Linked DNA regions of Homo sapiens. The protein of the gene in region 3 interacts with the protein of the main gene of each other region in a biochemical or structural test. Each region holds a gene or a part of one and is shown on either strand. Other genes may lie near its edges. The genes, in order: HTRA3, FRMPD3, ADGRA1 and GIPC2.

Region 1 (7,765 bases), on a different chromosome or scaffold from region 3:
CCAGCTGCCAGTCCTCCCTGGGCCCAGTTTCCTCCCCCTGGCTGATGGAAGGTGGGGCTAGCTTGCCTCTGGGTTCCGGCGTCTGGGAAGAGGCCACCATGCCCAGCCCCAGGTGCTTCCGCCCCTCCACCCACGCCCACCCACCTTGGGATGGATCTTGATGGTGGCAATGTCCGACTTCTTGTCGATGTCTTTGATGGTGGCCTCATAGGAGTCCCCATTCTGTAGCTGCACCTTGAGCTGCTGCCTGCCCGGGGCAGCACTGTTGCTGGACACCACGTGGGCATTGGTGATGATCAGGCCGGCCTCTGACATGATGAAGCCAGAACCGCTGGACAGGGGCACGTTGCGGCCAAACAGCGGGTGTCTGCAGCCAGGGAGACACAGGCGGGCATTTAGGGTGGGGCTAGGACGCGGGGGAGTCAGGCGCAGTGGTGGGGCTGGTCAGCGAGGAGCAGAGCCAGTGTGTGGCTGACAGAACACAGGTCTGGAGTCCCTCAAGCTCCCATTTGAATCCTGGCCCTGTGACCTGGCCAAGTCACCGGCGCCTGCACCCATTCACAGCCATAAAGAGGTGATGATGATCACCTCTCGCTGCAATTTGCTGAGATGAGACAGGCTGCCTGCGACATGTCAGATGACTCCCAGCTTGCACTCGCCATCCTGACTACGGAGCACGGAGCCAGACAGACCAGGATGCTAATCCCAAGTCCAGGACCCACTTATTATCTGCCTGACCGTGGGCAGGTCAGTGAAGCTCTCTGAGCCTTGGTCTCCCCATTTGGGAAATGGGACAACAACACCTCCTCCGCCGAGTGGTGATGCCTGGGCTCTAAAACGCCTCTCAACAAACAGGACAATAATTGGCCCTAGGGGAAAAGCCCCATTGCACACACAGCATCCTGCAGGGCTGCAGCAGGTACCCAGGAAGGGAGGCTCCCCAGAGGCTGGGGCAGATTCCTGATCATCCCGACAGGGTGAGTGCTGGGAGGGCTGAGAAGGCTTATTCCCACCTCCCTCTACCCTCACCCCCAGGCTAGCTGCCTAAAGCCCCAAATGTGGCAGTGCTGGCAGCAGGCAGATGCAGGACCCGAGCCCTGGACACCCCGAGGGCAGGGGTGCAGAGGCACAGATGAGGCCAGCCTGGGCCCTGCCCTCTGTGAACGGTGTGGAGCTGGCCTGGGTTTGCATTGGTGTCTGCCGATGGGCAACAATCCCCAGTTCTCACCAGAGCTCTCTGAGTAGAAACCACAGCCCCACATCCAGCAGGGGAGGAGGCTGAATGCCAGACACAGCCTGGGACCTTCTCCAGGGTGGGAACCTTCGGGACCCCAGCGTGGGGCCCAGCCCAGAGCAGGTACTCACTCCCTGAGGCTGCTTAGTAGAGATGAGCAAGGAAAATGTGCGAGGGACAAAGTATGGAGGGATGGAAACGTCTGGCACGTGCAGGCAGGTGAGAGCAAGAGACAAAGCATGGAGGGATGGGAGCGTCTGGCACGTGCAGGGAGGTGACAGTCTCTGCAAAGTACAGGAGCTTCGCTGTGACCCACAGGACCAGAGATGGCAGCGAATGCCACCCTGTGCTCCCTCTGAGGCAGGCAGGCCATTGAATGCTCATGGGCACCCTGCAAGGGGGGTGCTGTGGTGAGCTGTATCCCTGCCAAGAGATACGGCCAAGTCCTAACCCCATGTGACTGTGAATGTGACTTTATTTGGAAACAGGGTCTTTGCAGGTGTCCTGAAGTTACGGTGACATCAGAGTGTGTCTGTGTTGTCTTTAAGGGAGGGAAGTCCAGTCTCACAGAGGGGAAGGCCATGAGATGATGGAGACAGAGCAGAGAGAGGGGTCTAAGGGCCGAGGCGTACCAAGGACTGCGGAAAACACTAGAGCCAGTAGAGGGGCCTGGGACACTCCCCCAACATCCCCCAGAAGAAAGCAGCCCTGCTTGATTAGGACCTTGACACCTTGATTAGGACTTCCAGCCTCCAGAACCATGGGAGCAAACATCTCTGTCATTTTAAGCCATGCAGTCTGTGGTACTTTGTTATGGCAGCCACAAGAAACTACTGTCGTCCCTAACTCTCAGGTCTTTATGGTGGGAAAACTGAGTCCCGAGACGCTGAACTACTTGCCTAGGTCAGGCGGGCAGGCAAAGGGCAAAGCAGGGGTCTGCCCCAGGCAGCCTGGGCATCTGGCCACTTGGCCACCCCACACGGTGACCCCAGCATCTGTCCACTCACATCCGCAGCCAGCTTCTGCCACACCCACTCCGTGTGTGCCCCAGAGTAGGAACTGCACCTGTTTTGCCTGCGGAAGCCCCAGGGTGCCTCACAGGGCCAGGCACCTGCGGGGTCTGCAGAAAATGCCCGCGGCTGCCCACTGGCCTCCATGCCCACACTCAGACCTCAGGTCAGGGGTCACAGCCGGGAGGCCTGTGCTGGAAAAGCATCTGTCTCATCTTTGCTGGGTCTCACCCACCCACTCAGAGCATCAGTCACTGGAGGCTCTGAGGGCAGAAACGGCCTCCCAGCCGGGCTGGAGTCAGTAATTAGTTGGTTCAGAGCCTGGTGGCTGGGGCCTTCCAGAAAGATGCTGCCCCCATCCCTACCTCCTGGAAGGCCAGCAACGTGCCACTTAGTGCATCCAGTTATAATTTCCTCAATGACATGTCTCAGGGCCCGGGGCTCGAGGGAAGGGCAGTGAGGGGTCAGTGTGCTGCCAAGGGGGCAGTGAGAGGTCCATCAGCACGGGGCACCGGACAGGGTGGCAACCAGGGCTGTGGGTCCTGCATGGGTGGTGCCTCCAGGGCTGTTTTGAGAAACATGGGCTACACAGCCCACAGCCCAGGGAGCTCCCAGCAGGTGTGGAGGATGTGATGCTGAGGTGCTATATGCCCGTCACGCGCTCTCACACCCCTGTTCAAGGAGCACGACCTCTGCTGGAGAGCCCGGGATGGGGAGGGCAGAGGGGCCGTGACGCCTAGTGACAGGGGCTTGGACCAGACAAGCGCCGAGCCAGCCAGCAGGGAGGCGGTGCTGGAGCAGGAATCACTCCTGGGATCTCCCCATGAGCCACCAGATGCTCAGTCCCCAGGGCCGGGCCTAGGGCAGTGGAGCCTCGTCACAGGGAGGCTGGAGGCCTCAGGGAAAGTACCGTGAAAACAAGCAAGTCCCTGGAGCCCTGGCCTGCGGCCTCTGGTGACTGCTCATTGCCGGCTCCGTGTCCGCCTGGACCCGCCGTCTGATCCCTATCAGGGTGGAATGAGGCTTGGTTCCGGGGCCTCCTCATCAGGCTGTTTGCCGGCTCTGTGCACACCCAGGGACCAAAGGGCCAGCAAAGGTGGATGGGAGAAACACTCTAAACTTCAGAAGAGTCATTCAGTCTGCTTCTGCGGGATATAAGTCAATCTGGGATGAGCCCTCAGGATTCGGTGTGAGCGATCAGACATTGGGCAGCTTGCACAGCGGGAGGTTCTGAAGGCAGGGCTCCCCCAAACCAGCTCAGAGGGTCTCTGTGATGGGGGAAGTAGGAGAGGCTGGGGATGGTGGCAGGGACCGGGGCAGGCCCTGTGGGAAGAAGGGGAGGAGGCTTTGCCTGTGCATCTGCAAGGAGAGGCCTTGCTCGGGGGTGAAGCCACACGGTACACACCACTTCCTCTACGGGGCTGGGACATCCCGCTTCCCTATTGACCGACTCCACTCATTCATTCATTCTTTTACTCATCCATTGGACACTCACTCATTCCCTCCCTCACTCATTCATTCTGCCACTTCCTTCACTAACTCATTCCTCCCCTCACTCATCCATGCACTGATTCGTGCGTTCACTCACCCATCCCTCATTCCTCCCCGCTCCGGCCACACGGGCCTCGGTGCTTGCGAGCTGCCCCCACTGCCCTGCATCCACTGGCCCAGCTCCCGGGGTGCCTACTTCAGGCTTAGCTTGTGAGGCCTCCCGAGCCCCCGGTTCCCACTGCCCCGAGCCCTGCTCTCTGCCTGCCATGCCTCTGCTCCTTGCACACACACCTGCTGTCTCCTGGCATCTCCTCCGCTGGGTTCTGTCTGTGTCTGCTTTACTGCACGGCCCCTCAGGACGACCAACACATTGCATGTATCCAATAGCATGGGCAGCAGCATGAAGGGACAAAGACCCACAGCTGTGCACCTTCTTGGTGCCTACAGCTCCAGCAGGTGCGGAGTCACTTCAGCGGGGATGTCCTTCCCCAGGGGCACACAGGCAGCCAGCAGATGTGACTGAGGTCAGCCTGACCCCAGGCCACTCCAGTTTCTGTGGCCCAGGCTGCAGAATCAAGCCTGGTTTGGGCCCCAGCAGCTGGCGGGTGTACCAGGGGACACCAGGAGGCAGAGAGGGGCGAGGGGTATTCACCCACCTCAGGAAGAGCTCTATGTGGACCACGGCTGGTGCGATCTTCTCCACCACGTCAGCAATGAAGTTGAACTTGTAGCGCGGGCTGCTCAGCTGGTGGAGACCTGCGCTGGCGGGAAGGGCCAGGTGCATCAGTGAGATCACGATGCTGCCAGCTCCCAGAGGCCTATGCCCAGTGGGCAGAAGGAGGAGGCTCTTCCTGAGACCCCTGTCCCAGTTCAGAGCCAGCCTCAGCCCACACTGAGCCCGTTGGGGACCCCCTACCACACAGCAGTGCAGTGACACCAGGCATTTGGGAAGGGGCTCGCTCACCCCGAGAATGGTTAAAAAGGCTTCCACGTGCTGGGCTTCCTCACCCCCCTCACTGGACCCTGCTAGGCTGGGCAGGAGGCTCAGAGAGAGGTTAGGATATTGCCGTGAGCCACACGGGAGTGAGGCCAGGGCTGGATCTCGGGTTAGTCCCCCTGGGCCTTGTCTGTTCCCTCATGCTACAGCAATACCCTTACAGGAGAGAACTGGCCCTCTCCTCATGGGCTCCAGCTGGTCCCTCCGAGCCCTGGGGCTACAGCAGTGTCCAGGCGGGGGTGTAGTGGAAGACCCCCAGGTGACCCTTCTGAGCTACCCAGGCCCGGACACAGTGTGGCCCCTCTGGGCCAAAAGAGCTGCCAATTTCTGAGTCCACAGGGCCCTACATCTGTGTCTAACTTGGCCACACCCCAGCCCGACTTGCTAGATGGTTCACGAACTTCCCTGGACCCTTCCCGGGCTCAGATTCCTGCTGCCGTCAGCAGTAGGGGCTGTGGCTGCCAGGACCACAGGCCTGAGGCATGCAGTGGCACGGGGCCCACAGCCCTCGGGGTTCCCTGCACGGGCCTGTGCCGGGCTCTCTCCAGTTCCCACCATCTGGAACACATGCTGCTCAGCCTCGCTCGTGGCTCCCGAGCCCCGCAATGAGCAACTGGGCTGGGGGCTGCACACACCAGGGGTTCGGCTGGGCCTGGCTGCTTTCTAGCTGTGTGGCCTCAGACAGATTACTTACGTTCTCTGGGCCTCAACTCCTCATCTGAAAAATGGGACTGAATATGCCCTCCTACCACATCTGTGGGAACTGAGTGTGGAGGACTGCAAACTTCGAGTCCCTGCCCGGGGGGCTACCCACCCACCCAGCCACCTTGGCAATGGGGAGCAAAGAGGGCTCAGTCCATAACGTCCAGCTTTCCAGCTTTGCAGCCCACATTTCTCTTGATCTCTGGGAAGTGGCCGGGCATGGGGACCGAGGGAAAATCTGGTTTTCTGGATCGTCCAAAGGCACGAAGGTACCATGGTGGATGCCACTGTGGGGGCAGGGCCCGGGCCGCGGTCCGTGCTCTAGGAATCATCACAGGGCAAACACAATCCCCAGGCACATCCCAATTCATTCACCCAACTCTCCAGGGGCAGCCAGGGGAAGGAAACTTTTCCTCTATTTTAAAGGTGGGGACACTGAGGCTCTGTAAGAAGAACCCCCCTGCCCAAGGACTCACGGCTGGGAGGGGAGAACCAGGATCTGAACGCAGGCCGCAGGCCTCCTTTCCCTGGGTGCCCCCACCTCTGCCCTGCAGCTCCCCAAGGCCCTGAAGAGCCCTTTAGCCTGAGCTGGGACCTAGGGGGTTGGCTCGAGCTCTGGTGTTGGGTCTCCCAGACTTCCGATGTCTGCCTCTCAACCGGCCCGCAGGCACCAACCACACCAGCCCTCGTCCACTTCAGTCAGCCTGAATCAAAGGCCACCTGTCTGGGGTGGCTAGAGCCTGGCTGGGAGACGCCGGCCACCGCGAGGCTCCTCATAGATCAAACCACTGCGGCAGAGCGGGGTCTCAGGTTCAGAGGTCACATTAACAAACACCCCAGGGGCAGGGCCTGCTGTGGGCCCAGGGCTCTCTCTGCCCACGTTTGCTTCCATGAGGGATGCGCTGCCCTGCTCGACACCTACAAAGCAGGCGGCTCCCTTGGTGAGGTGAAGCTGCCGTGCGGCCCGAGTGGGCAGCCCAGGCCTGTCTGCTTCTCCTCCCTGCCCCTGGGAACTTGAGTTCATTTTCTAGCACCCAAGTAGAGAGGAAGGACACCAGCCACAAAGCCTGCTTCCCTGGTGAGGTTTGGAGCTGGTTCAGAGCTCTCACAAGATGCGCTCAGACCCACAATTTCCACGACCCAGAGGGATCCCAGGGCAACCCCCAGGCCCAGGCCCTCCTCCCTCCAGGAGGGAGGACTCAGCCGGTCTGCTGCTCCCCTGTGTGCCCTGGGGCCTGAGGCTGGCGCCCCATGTGCCTCGCCTGAGGAGAAGCGCCAGGGCACGGGCACAGCCCCCAGGTGGGACCATATTACCTCTCCTACCGTGTGGCCTTTGTCGGGCCACCAACTCCAGTTTCTGCTCATCATCCACCTCTCTACACCTCCCCCTGCACGACCTCTCTCTACTCTCCCTACCAAGATGCTCTGGTTGGTCCTGGGCCCGGCCCTAATCCTGCCTCCTCCAGGCAGCCCCGCAGCAGCCCCAGTTGTACCGAATCTGCCGCTGCTCACAGCCTTATTCAAGCCACTCGTGCAGGGTGCCTCCTGTGTGCCCACCTGTGACAGCTGCTGGAGACACAGTGGTTCAGCTGGGGGCAAGGGTCAAGTCAGTGACCGACCAGAGACAGCACAGCATCACCAGGGATGAGGCAGAGAGGAGCCCGGCGTGGGGTGGGTGAGTGCAGAGGTGCCCTGACCCAGGCCTGGAAGAGCCCACGGGCAGGGGCACAGCACATGGAAAGCCACAGGCTGAGCCCGCATTGCCTGTGCAGGCAGCCACGGCACACAGGGACCTGGGCCCAGTGTGAACACAGCAGAAGGAGGAATGGCAGCACCTCTCCTCCCACAGGTGATTAGAAAAGGCTGCCTTCCTGTGTGTCTCCATCCTGGACTCAGACACTCCAACACCCAGGGCCGGAAAGCTCTCTGGACCCCAACGTGTCCACCCCCTGCTTGCCAAAGCCCAGCCCCTGGACCCCCTCAAGCGCCTGGGCTGCTGGGCCCCTGAGCTCTGACGCGGCAGCCTGAAGATCTGCACAGCACTGCGGCCTCCACCGGAAGGACTTTCTCCCCAGTGTGGTCTCCCAGAGGTCACTTAAAATAGGTGACACTCGATTTTATAGGGGATGATTTGTTTTAAAACCCTCTGTGAAATATTCGTTAAGTAAAAGCCTTGCAGGAAACATCAAAATTCTACTACATGGTGGTTATTTGTGGTTGGGGTAAAGTTACAGTGACTTTTTTTCATTTTTCAAAGAGAAAATAAAACAGGGAGGGAGAGCAAGGCCTGAGACAGAAGGGCCGTGGGGCTGGGCTGGGAGGTGGCCTGTT
Region 2 (8,101 bases), on a different chromosome or scaffold from region 3:
AATCTAGTCTCCCCAATGACAATGTAGCCTCTCCAGGGCAGCATTCATTCCCACAACTGTGGCTGGATCACCCCTAGAAATAAGCATAGTGCTCCTCACTCAGACAACACCCACTGATCCCCTGTTCAGCCTGTTTCCTCCCAGAGCTCTGGTAATACAGGTCTCAAGCCTGTGCATTCTCAAAGTGGTTGCATTACACAGTCACCTAGGAAACTGAAAAAAATAAATAAATCCTGATGCCTGGGTTTCACCCATGACCAAAGAAATCATAATCTCTGAGAGTAGGACCCAGGCATCTGTTTTTTTCTTAAAGCACTTAAGGACATTCTATTGTGTAGTCAATGTTGAGAATCACTCAGAACATAGAAGACTCAGTTGGAAAGCTGTGTCTCTATTTTAAACCCCTTTTATTTCTCAGGAAGCCACATCTCCCCTGCATGCCTTGTCTTCCCTGCCCCCTTCTCTGCCCGTCCATTTGGCTTTTTACCCAACAACATCTGAGGAGTGCAGCAACCATTGGTTGAGGAGGTAGCCGCAAGCCAATTAAACATCGGCTCCAAGCCAGTTCCTAAACCAATGGGAATCCTGTGAATCACAGGTGGAAAAATCAACACATTAAAGCTTTCTGGGTTTCACAAAGACAAAAATAAAGCAAATAATTTTCTCTTTTAGAAACAGCAAACACTCCACCTCTTAATCTGCTACCAATATCTCCCCCTGGGAAATCGTTTAAGAAAGGAAAGTTGCAACTCCTCTAAGAGCTTCCGCCAGCTGGCAGGCAGGCCTGCCCCCCACCCACAGTGGTCACTGGTATTCAAACAGGAGAGCTGTGGAGGGGGTGGCTGACCAAGACTGCCAGACTTTGCACAGGCGACAGCTGCTTGCCAGTCCGAAGGAGTTGATCTATGGGAATGAATCTAAGGTTCTGGAAGGGCTGGACTCTGGGAGGTGAAATAAGGACAAGGCTCTGCATGTTCCCCTTCTTCCCAGGCCCCCTCTGTTCTGTTCACATGCTCAGACACCCTCTCTTCAATGACTCAAGGTGCGTGTCCCTATGGCAGGGCCCCCCAACTGCTGTGCACATGGAATGGGTGAAGATGGGCCAAGATATTCATTCCTATAGTTTCTGGGGCAGCCAGGCAGAACCTGGGGTGGACAGAGTCTCTGGGGCTGCTACATTTACCCCAGTGTTCCACATGAATATAATTTTTTTTTCTTTTTTCTTTTCTTTCTTTATTATTACTTTTTATTTATTTTATTTTTTTTTTTTGAGACAGGGTTTCACTCTGTTGCCCAGGCTGGAGTGTAGTGGTGCAATCACAGCTCACTGCAGCCTTGACCTCTCTGGCCCAGGCAGTCCTCCCACCTCAGTCCCCTGAGTAGCTGGGACCACAGGTGTGTGCTACCATGCCCAGCTAAGTTTTGTAATTTTTTGTAGAGACAGGGTTTCACCATGTTGCCCAGGCTGGTCTCAAACCCCTTGGACTCAAGTTATCTGCCCACCTTGGCCTCCCAAAGCATGAGATTACAGGCATGAGCCACCATGCCGGCCTGTGAATATAATTTTCTGTGTGCTATGATATGAGAAAAATGGGAAGCAGTGGTCTGGGGGTAGCTCCAAGTTCTCCAGTTTCCCTGCCCTGTGCTGAAGAACTGTCTCAGGCTGATCTGACTCTCCATAGCATTCCTTAGTGCTGGCTGACCTTATTATGTGGTCAAAATGGCATGTCCCAGAGGGCTGAGAAGAGACATATTAGCCCAAAGAGTCCCAGGGTTGAACCACTTCAGAATTACTGAACCTCACCTAACAGATTCCAATTCTCTTTCTCAAGTTTACTTCTTCCTCTATTCCCAAGGCCTGTTCCTAAACAGAAGGAGGCCCTCAAAGCAGGGCTTACCTTGGCATCCATGATGCTGGTCTCCACCCGGGCCACGCCCTGGTTCTCCCGGAACAGCTGGATCTTGCTGATCTTGCTGAACTCGGACAGCACAGTGGTGAGGTTGGTTTTGAGGTCAATAACATGGCTGATGCCATGACGGGGTCCCACCAGGAGCGTGGTGGCCGACTGCTTCTCATCCTGGTGCCCAAGAATGGCAGGCAACGTTCACAGAAGGAAGGGTGGAGGAGGTGGGGAGAGGAGGCAGGAGGAGGAAATAGAAAACATGCATTGGACTCTCTGGTGGGGTCTGAAAATATCTGGGGCTCAGTGCCACAGTAGGACAACCTGGAGGGGAAAATGGTCTGGGACAGAAAATGGTTCCTGGGATAGAGCCCCAGATTATGGGTCCAAATGAACACCTTAGCCTCAGCAGCAGGTTGAGTAAAGTGCACAGGCAGAAGGGCTAGCTCAAGCAAAACCGTGAAGTAGGTGAGGTTTGTTTGGGGGCCTTTGGAGCACCCTCCCCTTCCAAGCCCCAGGGGCTTTCCATTTGTTGCTGCAGGCCATTTGAGGCCCCCACCCAGTGCTCTGCCTGAGAAGGCGGCATCCTGTGTCTGGTCTTTACCCTCCCCCCACCAACAGCCACTCAAACTTGCACTTCTCACCCAGGCCAAAAACTAAACTGGCACAGTAACTCTGCCTAAGGTGTTGAGGGTTGATTGGGTACTTCATGGCAGCCTCCCTCGTTAAGCAGAGATTTGCCTTTTAATGGGCACTCCAGCAGGTATGGCCAATAGAAATTTTAGCAGTGGTAGGTGGGTGGAAGAAAGATTTGACAGTGTATGAAGGAGGTGGGAGGGGACAGTGGGCTTTCAGTGTTCTGCAAATCCCAGTATGTAAATGGCTACCTCTCGGCCTGAAGGACTGGATTCCCTTAAGAGGTCTTGACAGATTCCTTGGAGCAATCAAGCTTGGGTCGTCTGGAGGCCCATTCCCTGGTATTAGCATCACCCTGAGGAACCTCTTGTGCCTGTCTATAGGCACTTTGATAAGTGGCTTTCCACCGATGTGCCGCACTAGCTGACAATGTGCTCCTGGGAGCAAGACAAGCACCTGGATCCAATTAGCAAGGTGATTTGAATTTCCTTTCACCAGGGTAAACTAGCCTGGGGCACAGTCTTAGGGTGGGACCAGCTGTGCCCTGCCCCAGAGCCTTGTTCCTGCAGCAAAGGTGCTGAGCAAGCAGGGGGAGAAGTAGAAGGACTCAGGAAACCTAGGGTAGGGGACTGTGGGAGTATGTGGAACAAAAATGAAATAGAGCAGGGGTTGCCTAACCATGGCCCATGGGCCAAATACCACCCACCACCTATTTTTTATGGCCCAGGAGCTAAGAATGGTTTTTAGATTTTTTAATGGTAGGGAAAAAAAATCAGAAGAGGCATGTTTTGTGACATGTGAAAAGTACATGAAATTCAAATTTTCGTATCCATAAATAATTATTGGTAAACAGCCACACCCATTTGTTTATGCATTGTCTGTGGCTGCTTTCATAATCTGACAGCAGGGCTGAGTAGTTGCCACAGTTGCCAGTATGGCCCGCCTGCAAAACCTAAAATATTTACTATCTGGCCCTTTATGGAAAAAGTATGCTGCGCCCCCAAATCGAGGAAGAGGAACAAAAAAAGGTCATGGAGGGATACTCAAAACAAATATCTCCTCCCACTTTATCATTTTGGCAGAGGCAGGGCCAGGGAGGTAAGAGGTAGAAGGAGGAGGAAGAGGAACGAAGGCCTTTAGAAATATTTGCCCCTCCTGCCCCCACACCCAAGGACAAGAGCCAACAAGGGGCTCCCTCCCCACATCCCCCAATCCTGCGCCACTGACCAGGCCTACAGTGTTGAACAAAACGCCCGTGAAGGTAGGAAGTTCATTCAGAATTCGTAGATACTGGAGCTTTGCCTGAATTGCAGAGCCCTGTGGAAAAACCCATCCAGAAATATGAGAAGCCTGAGGGGCACAGGAAAAGCAAACCCATGTTCTCAACGAGGAGTCTCAACATCCTAGGACAGGCACCAGTCAGCAAGTGACACTGTGGAGATGTGAAGATGCCCTTCTTAAAACAGCAGCAAGGTTCTAGTTTGGACAGCTCTTCCCTCTAGTATCTCATCTCCCTTTCTAAAATCTTGTCCTACCTCCTGATCTTCATTCCTAAAGTATCCAGCTTACTCATTTTGTTTTTGGTTTAATTCCAACTAACTGACGCCCCACCTAATCCATACCTCTCTCCTGAGATGTTTCAGACCCCTAGAGTCATGTACATGCTGGTCATTCCCCAGCTGGGGGTCCCACTCAATACCGTTCATACTAAGCATTCCTAAGTCCCAAGCCTGCACTTCAGGCATTCCTGGTCTATATCAGCATCCCCTGGGCAATCAAGCCAGAAACCTGTGAGTCACACTGGACTCCTCCTTAATCGCCTCATGTGAGAGCCAGCAGTTACCAGATCATCTGGATACTTACCCCCTAGCTCCTTTTCCAATCTATCCATCCCTCTTCTCTAGCCAGTCATTGCCTTGACATTCCCACCTGTGTCAGGGTGACAGCCAGGTTACCTTCAGGACTGACACTTGTTTCCCTCTTTCCCTCAAGTGCCTCCACACTGTTAGAGGGAGCATCCTAAAACATAAGTTTAATCACATCAGCTCCCTGCTTTAAACCCTTCAATGGCTCCCAGCTGCCTAGAGGATGAAGTACAACCTCTTTCCTTGGCACACAAGGCCCTCCATGAACTGGCTCCTGCCAACCTCTCTGGCCTCTTCTCTTGCCCCTATCTTCACCCCTTGCACACAGCTTGCATTTTCTGTACTTGCTTAGGCTGAATGATTTGCATTTCTGTCCTTGCACCATGGTTTCTCATATCTCTGGGCCTTTGTACAGATGGATCTCTCTGCCTGGGAAACACTTCCTCCCATGACCCATGCCCACGGATTAATCTAGACAAACTCTTATCTGTCTTTCAAGACCCAGCTCTGGCCTTTTCCACCTCCCTCAGGCTGGGCTTAGTGTTCTTCCTCTGTGCTTCCAGAGCACCTGTGCCTAATGCACTGTGTTGGGACTGACTAATGTGTTTCCCCATTAGACTGTGCCTGACTCAGGGGCCAAGACCAGGCCCTCTTCATCTTCATATTTCCAACCCAAGCACTGGGGTGCCTCGAAAAAAATGTTACCTGAGGAGATGGTGGTGAGCACTGATGCTCTCAGTTGAGAAGAAAACAATCTGATTAAATATTCACAGCAAGGTGGGAATGGCTTAACTCTCCGGGGAAATTTGCATCTTAAAAGAGAAGCTAGTTGGTAATGCAAGAAATCTGGAATGGGAGGAATGTATGGGGCGATTGCGTCCCATATGTACATCTGCATGCTGATTCTAGTGCGTCTCACCACTCTCCTGCTTCTAGGGCAGGAAGCACAGGCAGATTGAATCTTACAAAGCTAAGAAGCTGCTGCGGGGCTTGGGAAAGCAGACAGTGGGAGTCCCTCAGAGCACTAGAAAGTGGAGGCAGTAACCTGATCCCTCACCATTCCACCCAGTGACCCATTCTCCAGGTCAGGTCTTGTGCCCCCAACTCTCCCACTTTCCCCTGGGCTGGGGTTTTGTCTCCCAGAATTCCACACCCTAGGACTGATGAATTAGAGGTACAGAGGTACATTTCCTTTTTTTACATTTTTTTTAAATTATTTTTTTAAAAGTAAAGACGCTGTCTCACTATGTTGCCCAGACTGGTCTCAAACTCCTGGGCTCAAGTGATCTTCCTGCTTTGGCCTCCCAAAGCGCTGGGATTACAGGCATGAGCCACCACACCAGCCTAGTCATTTCCATGGAAAACATGTGCCTCCCTAGGGTCCAGTGCTTTCCACATGATACATGCTCAGTCGGCACTGACTAATTGGTGAAAAGGACCTGAGAATTATCTCCTGCATCTTGGCCCCTTTGCTTTGAGGACCCTGAGCTCTCTCAGTGATGTGTCACTCAGCTGTCTCTTTGGGATGCTCAGGCTTGGGGAAGACTCCTCTCCACAACTGCCCCACACCTGGCCAAGCCGTATGTGCACCTGAGTCAAAAGCAGTGGTGAGGATCCCTAGAGGACCAGACTCTGCTGGGAAACCACCCAGGATCTCCCTGTGGCCAGTAGTGCCTGGAGCACCATGCCCAGTGGTCTACTCTGGATACCTTGGTGCCGCAGGAAGGATGTGTTTGGTGAGCCTTCAGTTGCTGAGAGAGAGATTTCCGGAGGTTCTTCTCTTTGATGACCTGCAGGAGGGAGGGGGGAAGAAAGGGTTCCAGGCCCCACTCCTTCCTAAAAGCAGAAGAAAAGTAAGAGATTAGTGAGAGAGGCAAAGTGGGACAGAGAGAAGATGGTAAGACAGAAATTGACTGAATCTGAGAGGTAGAGATGGAGGAATAGAGACTGGGAGAAAGAAAAAGGGACAGGGATAGGAAAATAACATTAGCCACAGCTCCCTAGTAGAAGCTGTAGCTCTAGGGCTTCATAGTCTAGATATGAGGGACTCCAATTCTCACTCCCATCCCATGTCCTACATTTCTGAAAAGCATAGCATAGCTCAACCAGTGTACCTTTTCCCTACGCAACTATTCGCCCCCCATCCCAACGGGCCGCAGCACAACTCACTCCACATTCTTGAGCGAGATCTTCTGACTAGGTCGAGTGGCTGAGACAGTGATATAGATGTGGAGCGCAGCAAGGCCCAAAAGCATCTCTGGCTTGGGATCCATTCCAAAGCGTTCTCGAATAACATCATTCCGACTCTGTGAGAGAGGGCAGTCCAAACCTATCAGCTGAAGGAGACATTCCTTCCCCACCCCCTGATCTACTCCCTTACATCCCAGACAATACTCATAGTATCAGTAAGGCATGCTAGATCAAGGGACAGAGGAAGGAGCTCCCCTTGGAGAAGAGACAACAGAGGAGGCTCAGGTCTCATAGACACTGTTCACTTTATTCAGCAGATACTAGATAGCCTTCTCAGTGACAGGGGCACACAATGGCAAGGTACAAGCAGACAGTCCAGTTCACTGCAAAAGTGAGACATGGCACCACTCCCTTTCTTTCCTCCTTTTATAAGAGACTTTCCTACTTTTTTTCATGGGGGTTATACTCACCCCCAAGCCATACAAGGCTCCTTTACTAGCTCAGATGGAAACAAGGGGAGAAAGATACTGGGAGGGACTCTCCACAGGGCCCTGGCCCAGAAGCCCAGGGTGAGAGCTGAATTGCAGGGATGGGGGAGGCATTCTTCTTCTTGGTGTCTGAAGGACAAAAATGTTGATGAGTCAATCTTCCCTATGCTATCCTAGAGGAGGTCTCCAGGAACTACTGGCCAAGGGTATGACAACCCCCAAACCCTGAGGGTCACAGCCCCAGCTATCAATGAGTCAGCCTTGGTTAGACCAGTTTCCCATTTTGTTAAAGTGGAACCAGTATGGACTAAGGGACTAGGAAGCCACAGTGATATCACTATAATATAGGAGAGAGTGGAAAAGGAATACATCATCAATGATCATCTATGTAGAAAATTCAGTGGATTCTATTACAAAAAACTACTACAACTACAGTTTTCCCTTGGTATCCATGGAGGATTTCTTCCAGGACCCCCATGGATACTGAAATTTGTGGATGCTTAAGTCCTTTATATAAAATGCTGTGGTATTTGCATGTAACCTATGCAAATCCTCCTGTATACCTCTATCACCTCTAGATTACTTATAATGCCTAATACAATTAAAATGCTATATAAGGCCAGGTGCAATGGCTCATGCCTGTAATCACAGCACTTTGGGAGGCGGAGACTGGTGGATTACCTGAGATCAGGAGTTCAAGACCAGCCTGGACAACATGGTGAAACCCCGTCTCTACTAAAAATACAAAAATTAGCTGGGCATGGTGGCGGGCGCCTGTAATCCCAGCTACTTGAGAGGCTGAGGCAGGAGAATCACTTGAACTCAGGAGGTGGAGGTTCCAATGAGCCGAGAGCGAAACTCCATCTCAAAAAAAAAAAAAAATTGCTATAGTGCTATGTAGGCCAGATGCTGTGGCTCATGCCTAAAGTCACAGCACTTTGGGAGGTTGAGGCAGGTGAATCACTTGAGGTCAGGAGTTTGAGACCAGCCTGGCCAACATGGTGAAACCCTGTCTCTATTA
Region 3 (8,101 bases):
GCTCACGCTTCCGCAACTTTGCAGCGCTCATGGTGAGTACGGGGGTCCCGGGGGTCCTGCAGCTGGGGGCTAGGCCGCTGCGGGGGGGCGGCCACCCGTATGGGGACTCCCAGGCTGGAAAAGTTGTGGAATGGCGAGCTGGTGACCGGGCTTCCGGGCTCAGTGCCGGGGTGGGAGGCTCTGTGGAGTGGGGGCCGGGGACAGGCCGCGTGTCTGGGCACCTCTGCTCCCCGCGTGCTGGGTGCTGATCATACTAATGAGTTGCAGGCATATGGCAATGTGGAATCATTTAATCAATGGAGGCGACGTCCCTCCCGCAAAGCTGGCATCCGTGCCCTGTGAAAACCTGGTCTGTGCCTGGGCTGGGGTCCCTGCCACCCCAAGCCCCTCCACCCTGGTCACCGGCCTCCTCCACGCCACCCTGCCGGCCCCTTCCCATTAGAAAGTTGATGAAAGGCAGTGCGGACAGACGTAGGTGGGCTTCAGCAGTGGAGGCTGTGGCGGAGAGAAGGCGGCCGCGCACACGGCAGGCACGGGAAGGGTGTTTCAGCGGGAAGGGGCTCGTGGCTGGCAGCTGGCTGGATCGGCTAGCCGAGCCCATCGTGGGTCCCTCCCTGAGGCACCAGCAAGCTTTTGCTGCAGTTGCTGAATGTCTGGGTTCCGGAAGGGCTGACAGCTGAGTGAACAATGCATTGTGTGTGCTGGTAAGGGACAGCTGACAGGCGGTGAGGACCCAGGGCACGTGCAGAGAATGCCAATGGCCTCTAGAATGTGCGGCCGCCACAGACGCCGGCTGGCGTGCTTCGGAGCAGACCCAGTGTTCGCTGCATAAGGAGCCATCGGTCTGAGTCACTTGCTCATTTTCTTCTTGTTCCGTTCGAAATGTCCAAGCAAGAGAGATGCCTTTGCCAACATTCAGTATCGTCTTCCAGTGGCTGCTTCACCTCTGAGGCTGGCTGAGGTCTCCGCACTTACCTTTCAGACACCTGACAAGGTTGCGTCTCCAGCACCAGCAGCACCTCAGGGGGCAGCAGGCCAGCCCCAGGGCTCCTGCCTGCCCCCAGGCTCCCACCAGCCTCAGGAACCATCGCTGTTGCCCCGCAGGTACCACACCCAGCGCAGCCCCAGGCCTCCCAGTTGGCAGGATCTGTGGCTTTTCAGCCTCAAATTGAGACCCTTATTTGCAAAATGGAAAACTGTCATTGACAGAGGACAGTGAACGGAGAAGGGCTTCTGAAGGTGGGGGTGCTGCCGCAGCCCGGGGGTCCCTCTCATCCCCTTCCTCGCCTCCTCCTCTCTAACCCTTGGCCCTTCTGCGAACAACTGTGCGGGGGCCTCCCCAATCCAAGAAGGGCACCACCCCTCGCAGGCTGAGCCTGTTCGTGCACTCTCCTCTCAGCTCCTGGCTCCTGGTGGAGCTTCCTGCTACCACCTCCTCGGCCCGGGGCCACCCGGTCCCAGCCGGCCTGGCAGCCCAGAGCTCCTGCTCACCCAAGACTGTGAAAGCCTGCTGAGCTCGATCTGCCTGGAGAGTGTGGCATTTCAGCAGCTCACTGTTTTTATTCACAACAAGTAACATTTGCACCTGAGAAAATCTCTGAAAGTGTGAGGAGTTGCCCTCCCGTGCTGCATCAGTCTGGTGCAGCATTTTTCTGCATGTGTCTCCAAGTTCACAGCGTAGTGTGACAGCGTAATTCACAGCACGTGTCTCCAAGTTCACAGCGTAGATACCTGGGCAGGCTCACCCCATGGCCATGGGGTCTTGAGAAGGAAGCCTGGAGGCCGTGGCCAGGGCAGGGTGGCCCTGACTCTGCCTGCCCCACTGCTGTGCTCTGGGGGGCTCCTGACGCCTGCCAGGGGCAAGCTGCCTGCTGAGCTCCCAAGTGTAAGGGCATAGGGCACAGGTCACAGGTCAGATTCTTTGGTGGCATCGCTCCTGGCCAGGCACAAAGGCATGAGTCAGCCCTGGATTCTGAGCTGCTGTCCAGCAGCTTGGCTGGGCCAGGCCGTCCTCTCAAAAGGCTGGTTTGTCGGCCCATGGTGCTCTACAGGATGGACAGTTTGCTCCCCTCTGGAGGACCTGCAGGCCACCTGTCCAGTGGTTAAAGCTGGGGCACCTCCTTCTGCAAGCTGTGTCTCCGTCACCACTGTTAACGAGCAAAAGCAAATGTGAACTTGCCTGTCTCCGCAAGGGGTGCTATCAGGACTTACGTTCCAGCAGGCTCCGAAATGAAATAGGTGTCACTTCGCACCCTGTAACTTGCAGTCCTCACACTTAACTCAGAGAACAGTTGTTCTCGAGGGCCTGAATTTGAGGCTGAAAAGCCACAGATCCTGCCAACTGGGAGGCCTGGGGCTGCGCTGGGTGTGGCACCTATGGGGAAACACCTGCAGGGTTGGATGGTGTGGCTGGTGCAGTGTGGTTGCCGTGGGATGGGCGGTGTGGCTGGTGCAGTGTGGTTGCCGTGGGATGGGCGGTGTGGCTGGTGCAGTGTGGTTGCTGTGGGATATGGTGTGGTGTGAAGATGTCGTCTGGCCCTCTGTGGCTACTTTCATTCCACAATTGCAATATTTAGGTGCAGCTGGGAGCATGAGCTCATCGTCCCTTCAGGGTTCAGGCCCTGTGCCGATGGCACCATTGCCTGGTTAGCATCTGTGTTTCTATGTGGTCATCTGTGAGCTGCCAGCTTTCTGTGAGTAGGGTGGAGGCTCTCAAAGGGGACTCAACCGAGCCCCTTCCAGCTCTCAATTCAGGGCTGACTCTTGGTCATCAGAGGCGCTGTTTGCTGCACCCTGCATGTTCTCAATGCCGGGATTGAGTGCGAGGACAAGCTTGGGCTGGGGGACCCCAGAGACCTGGTGTGTGTAGGGAGCTCCTTGGGTCTAACACTTCCTTCCCCAGCTTCTGAAAGGACAGAGTGCCTTCGAAACCTCCAAGGAGACGAGGCGGGTAGCCAAAGGGTGAAGACCTCCAACCGGAGGGTGACAGGCCCAAGGTCAAGGCCAGCCTCCTGGCGGTGCCCCCAGGAAGGGGAGTCTCGGAGGCCGAGAGTGAGGAGGAGCCTGCAGCTGCTCCCCGAGGCCGGACCCATGTGAAGTCCGCCCTGAAGAGAACCAGGATCGGGTCCTGGCCCAAAGGCAGGTTGTGGGAGACTCGGAGCTCTGAGTTGTTAGGAAGTACGTGAGCCCACATGAGGTGGGTTTATCTCTGCTCAAATTTTACCCCTTGGCCTCTGCCAGGAATGGGCATTCAGGAGGTGGGAGGGGCCCGGGACGCAGGGCCTCTCACAGGGCGTAAGGATGGTCGGTCGCGCGTACGAACATTTCAGAGCTATACTGAGTTCTTTTCAGCTAGTTGTTTTTTAGTCTAATATCTAAATTACTAAAAATGGCTACAGTCTACTTCCTTCATCTCACAGATGGAGAGTTTGTCATCCCACCTCACATCTTCCCGAAAATTAAGAACTTTAAGCAAGTAACTACCAGTCTAGAAAGAAAGCGTCTATGATATTTTAACACTTTTTTCCCAAATCTCTTCAAAACTTCACTAGCCCATCTACTCCTCCAAGAAGAAAATCATAACGCACCTTACAAACGTAATGCCGACTATGGGTCATCTGTGTTCTGGAGGAATAAATTCTTCTCCTCTACCTTCCACCTTTCCCCTGGAACACATCCATGAAAAGTTGACAGATCAGTAGATGCAATTATTATTTAAAAGGCAGACAAGGGAATACATCAGGCTCTCAGGAAATCAGTGTTCATTGGCACAGAACCAGGAAGTAAAACAGGGAGAACCAGAAAAAACAAGAAAGAGAAACAGGAAGAACCAGGAAGAAGCACCTGAATGAAGAAGGAGAAATAGGGAGGGAGGAAGGAAGGAAGGAAGGAAGGAAGGAAGGAAGGAAGGAAGGAAGAGAGGGAGGGAAGGGAGGGAAGGAAGGAAGAGAGGGAGGGAGGGAAGGAAGGAAGGAAGGAAGGAAGGAAGGAAGGAAGGAAATGAAGGGAGCCTGAACCTGGAAGAAGGAGAAGGAGGACTGGAAGCACCTGGGAGGATATGTGTTCCTTCCTCAGCCAGTTGGAGCTGCAGACCTGGCCCCGGACACCTCACCGTGCAGGAAAGAAGGTTCCTCAGCCAGTCGGAGCTGCAGACCTGGCCCCGGACACCTCACTGTGTAGGAAAGAAGGTTCCTCAGCCAGTTGGAGCTGCAGACCTAGCCCCGGACACCTCACTGTGCAGGAAAGAAGGTTCCTCAGCCAGTCGGAGCTGCAGACCTGGCCCCGGACACCTCACCCGCAGGGAGGAAGATTCCTTCAGGCAGCTGGCATTCCCCAGGTTTGAAGAGGTCACTTTCCCACCTCTCACTGCTGCAGAAAGGTTAAGTTTTGATCAGAAAATTCACACATAACTTGACCGACTGCTTCCTTCTCATCTTTCCTCCTTTGTTTTTGTCTTTAACACCCTGACCCACTTGATTTGCAGAACACACCAAAGAGGAGACCTCCAATTAAAATGAGGGAAAACAGAGGAGGAAGTTATGACTAAAGAAAGAGGAGACACAAATAAGCCAGAGCACGAGTCCCACGCACGCCGGGCTCACACGCTGGCGGGACTGTTGGCTCCGAGGCCGGCAGATGGGAGATGGATGCCCGCCTTCCCCAGGGAAGCAGAGACATCTCTGGGTGCCTTCTAGAGCAACCTGGGCCATCCTGCGGGCACAGAACCAAGCTGGCATTCCGGCCATTTCATCTGGGCCAAGAAGGTCGGGGCCACCTTCATCCGCCCCTTCCCAGCCCCCTTGGGTCCTCGGAACCGTGTTCTTCACCCCCCAGGAGCCTGGCTGCATTGCGAGCCGAGGGTCCAGGAACTCTGCTTCTGACTTGCTGGCTCACCCCTGTCAGCCAGGCTCTGTTCAGCCACAGATCAGACCAGCAGGCCTGGGGAACACTTGCAAAGAAGAATCGGTGCATGTGCAAACTTTAAAAGACAACACACGTCTCCACTGCACATGACCCACTTTGAGTTTTAAATGTCACCTCTGAAAATGTAGACAGGCACTGTTGATAACTGTAATTTGGAGACAAGAAAAAGAAAAGAAACCAAACCAAATCACACATCTGTTTCTTATAAAACATCTTGTTGACACACGGATCATTGCACAGGTGAGGACCATGGCCCAGGCCTCCAGCTCACGCGGCAGCTCCAGGCGTCCACGCCTGCCCTTGCCGCCTCAGTCCGTGTGAAACCTCACAGCTTGGCCTTCAGACGAGAAGCCCCACACAAGGCGGCGTGGCCCTCGCTGTCACTGGAGCTTGGGCGGCCTCCTCCCAGCGCAGCCTGCACCTTGCACTCGCGCCCTGAGACGTTTGCCTCTTGCATGAAAAGCAGCTCTGATTGGGCTTAACATGAAGGGGTTTGTGTTTGTGACTAAAAGCCACAAACGGGAGGCTAAGTCTCCTTCTGGCCCTGAGGATGGAGGCAGCGGGACAGGACGCGGCTCGCAGGCACCAGACATCAGGGCACACACTTTCCTGGCTGCCATCTGCGCCTCCGCCCACAGTGGCACCGCCCCTCGCCCCCGTAGCTGAGCAGGAGTCTGAGTCCTGCAGGAAGGCGCGGCGGCCACAGCAGCCCCAGGGAGGCCGTGAGAGGACGCGTGAGGGCCCGGGGCAGACCACCCCAGGCTCTTCAACACAACAGATGAGAACGAAGTCCTTGTTCCAGGCGACTCACTGAGGAAATGCTCCGATAGACTCGGAGAGGGCTGGACACAGAGTGGACCCCACTCTCTTGGCTTCTCTCGCGGATCTGGGTTTGCAACAATGGCTCGTCGGAACTGTGTAGAGCGTTCAGGTTTATTTTAGACCCTGGGTCAATGTCTTGGAGGAAAAGCCATTGACTCTCGTGGAAGAATCCTGGGGACAAGAATCTGGGGCGTCGCTCACGCCCTGTTAAAACTTCAGTTCTTCTACCCACATGGGGCATTCTCCACCTCCCAGCAGCAGATAACTCACTGGATAACCTGATGTCGGGATTTGGCCGGGAAAACATGCTTTTCTGTGACTTTGGAGCTGTTTGCACGTGGCAGGAAGTGGGCGCCTACTAAACCAGCAAACGTGGGACAACCAGCCTGGCACCGCCCGAGCCACGCCAGAGCCCCCATGCATCGTCTCCTGATGGCAAGCACTCCAGTAGCCAGAACACCAAGGAGGGACGTGCGAATGTCCACAGTTGGCCGGGCTGTCCCTGGGCTGATCTCTGGGGGAAGCAGGAGCCCCAGCTGGAGCTCGGACCGGACACTCACCCCACGACTGTTGCAGGAGGCAACTGACGCTTCGGGCTCTGGGGCACTCAGGAGAATCTGGACAGAGGCCCACCCAGCTCACCTCTTTACAGAGGGGCAGAGTGAGGGTGGGGCTCTCCTGGGCCCTGACTCCCCCGAAAACCCTCAGGGGCCTCTGTCCAGGGTGGGCCTCAGAGCCAAGCCTGAACCACAGGGCGCTGTCTCTCTGTGGGGTCCTGGTGTCCAGGAAGAAATGGGCAGATTCTAAACACTCCCCGGAAAGCAAAGTGTCTGCTGTCACTCCAGCTCTGCGGCCCCACAGCGACGCCCGCTCCTCTCCCAGGTGCCTTCGCCCTCGCACAGGTCCAGGCTCCTCGTCCCGGGATGCAGGGCCCCTCCGGTGCCCGCCTGGCCAGTGCTGTTCGAACCCTGGGGCAGGGGCCCTATTTCGGGCTTTGACTGTCAGCCAGTCCCTTGGCTCCCCAGAGCACCCTCTGTCCACGGTGGACACTCTCTAGCCAGCCAGGGCCTCGTCTTGGCTGGACGGACAAGAAGTGTGGCCTCAGGAGGGAAGCAGGAGCTCTCGGGCCCGCTGGCTGCCTGCATCCCGACACAGGTGACACTGCCTCTGCCCATGGCCCTTCCTGCACAGGAGGGTCCCTCTCCACTTCCCGCCTCACTCAGCCGGAGCCATCCCAGAGGCCCGGCCGGCTGCCTCCTCCTGCCCCGATGCCCAGGGCAGCATCCATGGCGTGGTCAGAGTGGCTGGAGCCTGGCACAGGTGCAGCGATCACCAGGGGGCTGGGGAGGGGCCAGGCGGCTGCAGCCCTCACCCCTGCTGGCACCCACCCACAGGGTTCTTACCGGAACATGGCACCCACCCTGCTCGCCTGCCTGAGGTTCATAACTAAACCCTACACAGTGGGGCCCTGAAGCACAGACATGTTTCCCACAGTCTGGAGGCTGGAAGCCTGAGACAGAGCTGAGTGCAGGCTGGTGCCCCGAGGCCCCCTCCTGGGCCTGTGCACGCATGTTTCTGGGCTGATGCCCCTGAAGCCCCCTCCCCAGCCTGTGCACCCCTCTGTGCTTCCCCGGTGAGCTCACCTCACTCACCTGATGAAGAAAAGATGAAGCTCCATCAGCTCCAAGCCTTTCCAGCTGGGTCGATTTTCCCCCAGTCTACTCTGCCACAGAGAACACACATTCCCCTTTGAACTCTGACCCTGAACCCTTTTCTTGGGCCGAGAAGCAGGTGGAGTTTGCGGCCTCCGGTCCAGGTCTGTTGGTGCCGAACAGTCTCCACTCTTTCTCCACCTCTCGCAGAAGCTCGTACAGAATCCTCCCGGAAGATGTTGACAAGCAGGGTTTCGATGAGTGTGGGGCTCCCAGTGCAGGGCTGGGGCCATCCCATGGTTTCCCTGCCTCTCTGTAAGGCCCATCCAGATCCCACCTGGCCACCCGCAGGCCACGGGAAGAGAGGAGGCTGGAGGCAGGCATCAGTCGGCCGATACATGGCCCCAGGAGCCAGCCTCAGAGCCACACAAGGATGCCTTTGGCCAGCAGAGCCAGTGGAGGGCGAGGACAGACAGCACTCCGTGGCCACGTGGGGCCCCTCCCGTGCACTCCCTGAGCATCCACAGACGCAGCCTGACCGTACCTCCCCAGGCAGCCCCCCTTCCCTGAGACCCCACACGAAAATGCCTGGAGCGGCTGCAGGGGAAGCCGAGCCCCAAGGGTAGGCTCAGGCGACGGCGCCGCCCACACAGACCCACCAGCCAGTCACACACGTCTCCTTTGCTTTATCCTCAGGATCTGAA
Region 4 (3,500 bases), on a different chromosome or scaffold from region 3:
TAACTACTGAATTGGTGAGGATCCTTTTATTCAACAACTATTTTTTAAACTCCAACTATAATATGTTTCAGGCAAAGTCTAGGCCCTTGAGGGCCACATCAGTAAACAAAGACAAAAATCCTTGCCTTTGTGGAGCTTCTATTGGGGCAAGGGGGCAGACCATAAACAAAATAAGTTAAATATACATAGGATAGTATGCTACGGAGAAAAATTAAGCAGAGAAGGGAACAGGGAGTGTTGCACCTAGAGATGATCAGTGCTAGCCTCACCAAGAAGATGACATTTGAACAGACTTAAGGAAGGGCATTCTGTAGGAAGAGGTTCTGGCGGAGGCAAAAACCAATGCAAAAGTCTTAAGGCTCCAGCATTCAAGGAGACCAGTCTGGCTGGAGCAGAAGGAACAACGATTCTGAAGAGGTAACAGAGCCCGTAGCCCATCATAGTATTTTGGTTTGTTCCAAGTGAGAGGGGAAGCCATGAAAGGTTTAGAGCAGAAAATGAGATACAAATTGTATCTCAGAGACAGCAACTTTTGAAGAGTTTTGCTAAAAAGGAGAAATGAGGTGGTAATACAGGGGATGGGAACAGGTGTCAAAAGAAGGTTTGTCTGTTTAAGAGAAATAACAGCATGCTTGTGAGGATAAAATCTCACCTTAAAAATCACAATTCTACGCCAGGTGCGGTGGCTCATGCCTGTAATCCTAGCACTTTGGGAGGCCGAGGCAGGCAGATCACCTGAGGTCAGGAGTTCAAGACAGGCCAACATGGCAAAACCCCGTCTCTACTAAAAATACAAAAATTAGCTGGGCATGGTGGCATGCACCTGTAGTCCCAGCTACTCAGGAGGCTGAGGCAGGAGAATCACTTGAACCCGGGAGGCAGAGGTTGCAGTGAGCCGAGATCACACCACTGCACTCCAGCCTGGCAACAGAGTGAGACTCCATTTCAAAAAAAAAAGAATAACACTTCTTGCCTTTTCTGCTTCTCAAGTACTCTGCTTTCTTTGACTGCTTTATGTATGGGGAGAGAATAAGTCACTGAATTACTCATTTATTATTCAATGAACTATTTGGTATCTAATATCACACGCAAACTAATCTAAACAAGTAAAAGGAAGTAATTTCTGAATTCTGCAGAGAAACTGCATCTGAATTTCCAGTTTCTGGACATGTAAAATTTCTAACTATAAAATTTATCTTTTTTTTGTTAATAATATTTCTTTGTTATTCTTTTAATGTCCAAGGATCAATAATGATGACATCATTTCTTTTTTTTTTTACATTTTACAAAATGAATGTATTGAGCAAAGTGGGGTTCTTTTTTTTATTATACGTCTTTTCTTAAGTTTTCACATTCATTATTTTTTCCTACAATATTTCCACATAATAGAGAATTAGGAAAATATATCATGGTAAAAACTACTTGCCAAACAATTACAGTAGTCAAATATTCAAAATGCCCCTTCAACAAAATGTATGACCATAGCTCGAGAGTTTCATGTAACCTGGATATTTTAAAAGATGGTATGTATTGGCCGGACACGGTGGCTCACGCCTGTAATCTCAGCACTTTGGGAGGCTGAGGCGGGCAGATCACAAGGTCAGGAGATCGAGACAATCCTGGCTAACACAGTGAAACCCTGCCTCTACTAAAAATACAAAAAATTAGCCGGGCATGGTGGCAGGCACCTGTAGTCCTAGCTACTCAGGAGGTTGAGGCAGGACAATGGCATGAACCCAGGAGGCGGAGCTTGTAGTGAGCTGAGATAGCACCACTGCACTCCAGCCTGGGCGACAGAGCGAGACTCCCGTCACAAAAAAAAGAAAAAAAAAAAAAGATGGTATGTATTAAACTTTCTCAAGAAGAGTCTTTGCATTTATGTAGGAGTTAATTGTTCTTTAGATGAGATTAATTTACAGGGTTTTTTTTCTTTTTACTGAATTGTTCATTTAATTGTTTTGAAAAAAGGCATCAGATATGAGGGATTTTTGCATAACTGGCCATCTGTCTCAACTTAATAACAAATCTTAACTGATTCACAGCCTTCATTAGCTTATTCCTTCAGGGACCACAAAACACTAGCTGAAGTCCACAACTGTCAGTCTCACATCAACATCTTTTTGAGGCAATAAATATTTTTGTGGTTAAGTCTGAGGCTTTTATTGAAAAAAAAAATTTGTTTACAAAAGACGTTTTTCCAGGTTAGTGTTTAGAATTTGAATGCAGCTACCAAGAATCTCACAGCTGCTATGTAATAGACTTGGAACCGGCCAGGTGCAGTAGCTCACGTCGGTAATCCCAGCTCACTTTGGGAGGCCGAGGTGGGCGGATCACCTGAGGTCAGGAGTTTGAGACCAGCCTGGCCAACATGGTGAAACCCCATCTCTACAAAAACACAAAAATTATCCAGGCATGATGGCGTGTGCCTGTAATCCCAGCTATTCAGGAGGCTGAGGCAGGAGGATCACTTGAACACAGAAGGCGGAGGTTGCAGTGAGCCACGATCACACCGTTGCACTTCAACCTGGGCGACAGAGCTAGACTCCATCTCAAAAAAAAAAAAAAAAAAAAAGAGGTTTTTCTGGGTTCGTATTTGGAATTTGAATGCAGCTACCAAGAATCTCACAGCTGCTATGTAATAGACTTAGAACCAGGAAACCAGAATTCAAATCCTGGCTCAGCCACATACCAGCCTATTTAACTTCTCAGAGTCTCACTTCACTAAATTGTAAAATGAAAAGATTCTGGTGAGGATGGAGTGAACACACTGTAGGCTTACAGGCCTAGCACAGCTGTGGGCACATTATGGGCCCTGATTATCTGCTCCACTTGACATCAAGTCTTTTCCCTTTCTCCTCAATAAAGAGTGGCTAGCTCTTCATGTAGTGCTATTTATATCCTTACAGCCACCACTCTAGAAAAAAGGCAGGACTTCTGAGTTAACTATCTATTCAATCCCATTAAGGGGGGCAAATGTTTTTGTCCCCACTGACATCTCAAAAGTTATTTACATCACAGGGCTGGGCGTGGTGGTTCACGCACTTTGGGAGGCCGAGGCGGGCAGATCACCTGAGGTCAGGATATCAATTCAAGACCAGCCTGGCCAACATGGTGAAACCCCGTCTCTACTAAAAACACAAAAATTAGCCAGGCATGGTGGTGCATAATCCCAGCTATTAGGCAAGCTGAGGCAGGACAATCACTTGAACCCAGGAGGTGGAGGTTTCAGTCAGCCAAGATCGTGCCACTGCACTCCAGCCTGGGCGACAGAACAAGACACCATCTCAAAAAACAAAAACCAACCAAAAAAAGTTGTTTACATCATTATTGCTGAGGTAATTGCTTGCTGGGGAAATGGGCTATGAAAATGGAATCTCCTTGGTGTGCATTTCATTTTAGTGAGTTACTTCTGTTTCAGAGTGAACCACTGAAATATTATGCGTACTATGCTATGATGACCAATACTTTATTCTGCATATAATTAACTTTTTCTAATCCAG

Evidence for each region.
Region 1: the proteins of ADGRA1 (region 3) and HTRA3 interact in a test that uses a peptide from one of them, tested with the Homo sapiens proteins (one large-scale study listed by IntAct).
Region 2: the proteins of ADGRA1 (region 3) and FRMPD3 interact in a test that uses a peptide from one of them, tested with the Homo sapiens proteins (one large-scale study listed by IntAct).
Region 4: the proteins of ADGRA1 (region 3) and GIPC2 interact in a test that uses a peptide from one of them, tested with the Homo sapiens proteins (one large-scale study listed by IntAct).

Annotation. Positions count from the first base shown.
Region 1 is NC_000004.12:8,279,163-8,286,927, reverse strand, and holds part of HTRA3 (serine protease HTRA3 isoform 1 precursor), read right to left. Parts: intron 4,492-7,765; coding exon 4,392-4,491; intron 368-4,391; coding exon 145-367; intron 1-144. UniProt on the Homo sapiens protein: Serine protease that cleaves beta-casein/CSN2 as well as several extracellular matrix (ECM) proteoglycans such as decorin/DCN, biglycan/BGN and fibronectin/FN1.
Region 2 is NC_000023.11:107,558,864-107,566,964, reverse strand, and holds part of FRMPD3 (FERM and PDZ domain-containing protein 3), read right to left. Parts: intron 6,709-8,101; coding exon 6,572-6,708; intron 6,239-6,571; coding exon 6,112-6,238; intron 3,855-6,111; coding exon 3,765-3,854; intron 2,079-3,764; coding exon 1,899-2,078; intron 1-1,898.
Region 3 is NC_000010.11:133,088,881-133,096,981, forward strand, and holds part of ADGRA1 (adhesion G protein-coupled receptor A1), read left to right. Parts: 5' UTR 1-29; coding exon 30-32; intron 33-8,093; coding exon 8,094-8,101.
Region 4 is NC_000001.11:78,048,966-78,052,465, reverse strand, and holds part of GIPC2 (PDZ domain-containing protein GIPC2), read right to left. Parts: intron 1-3,500.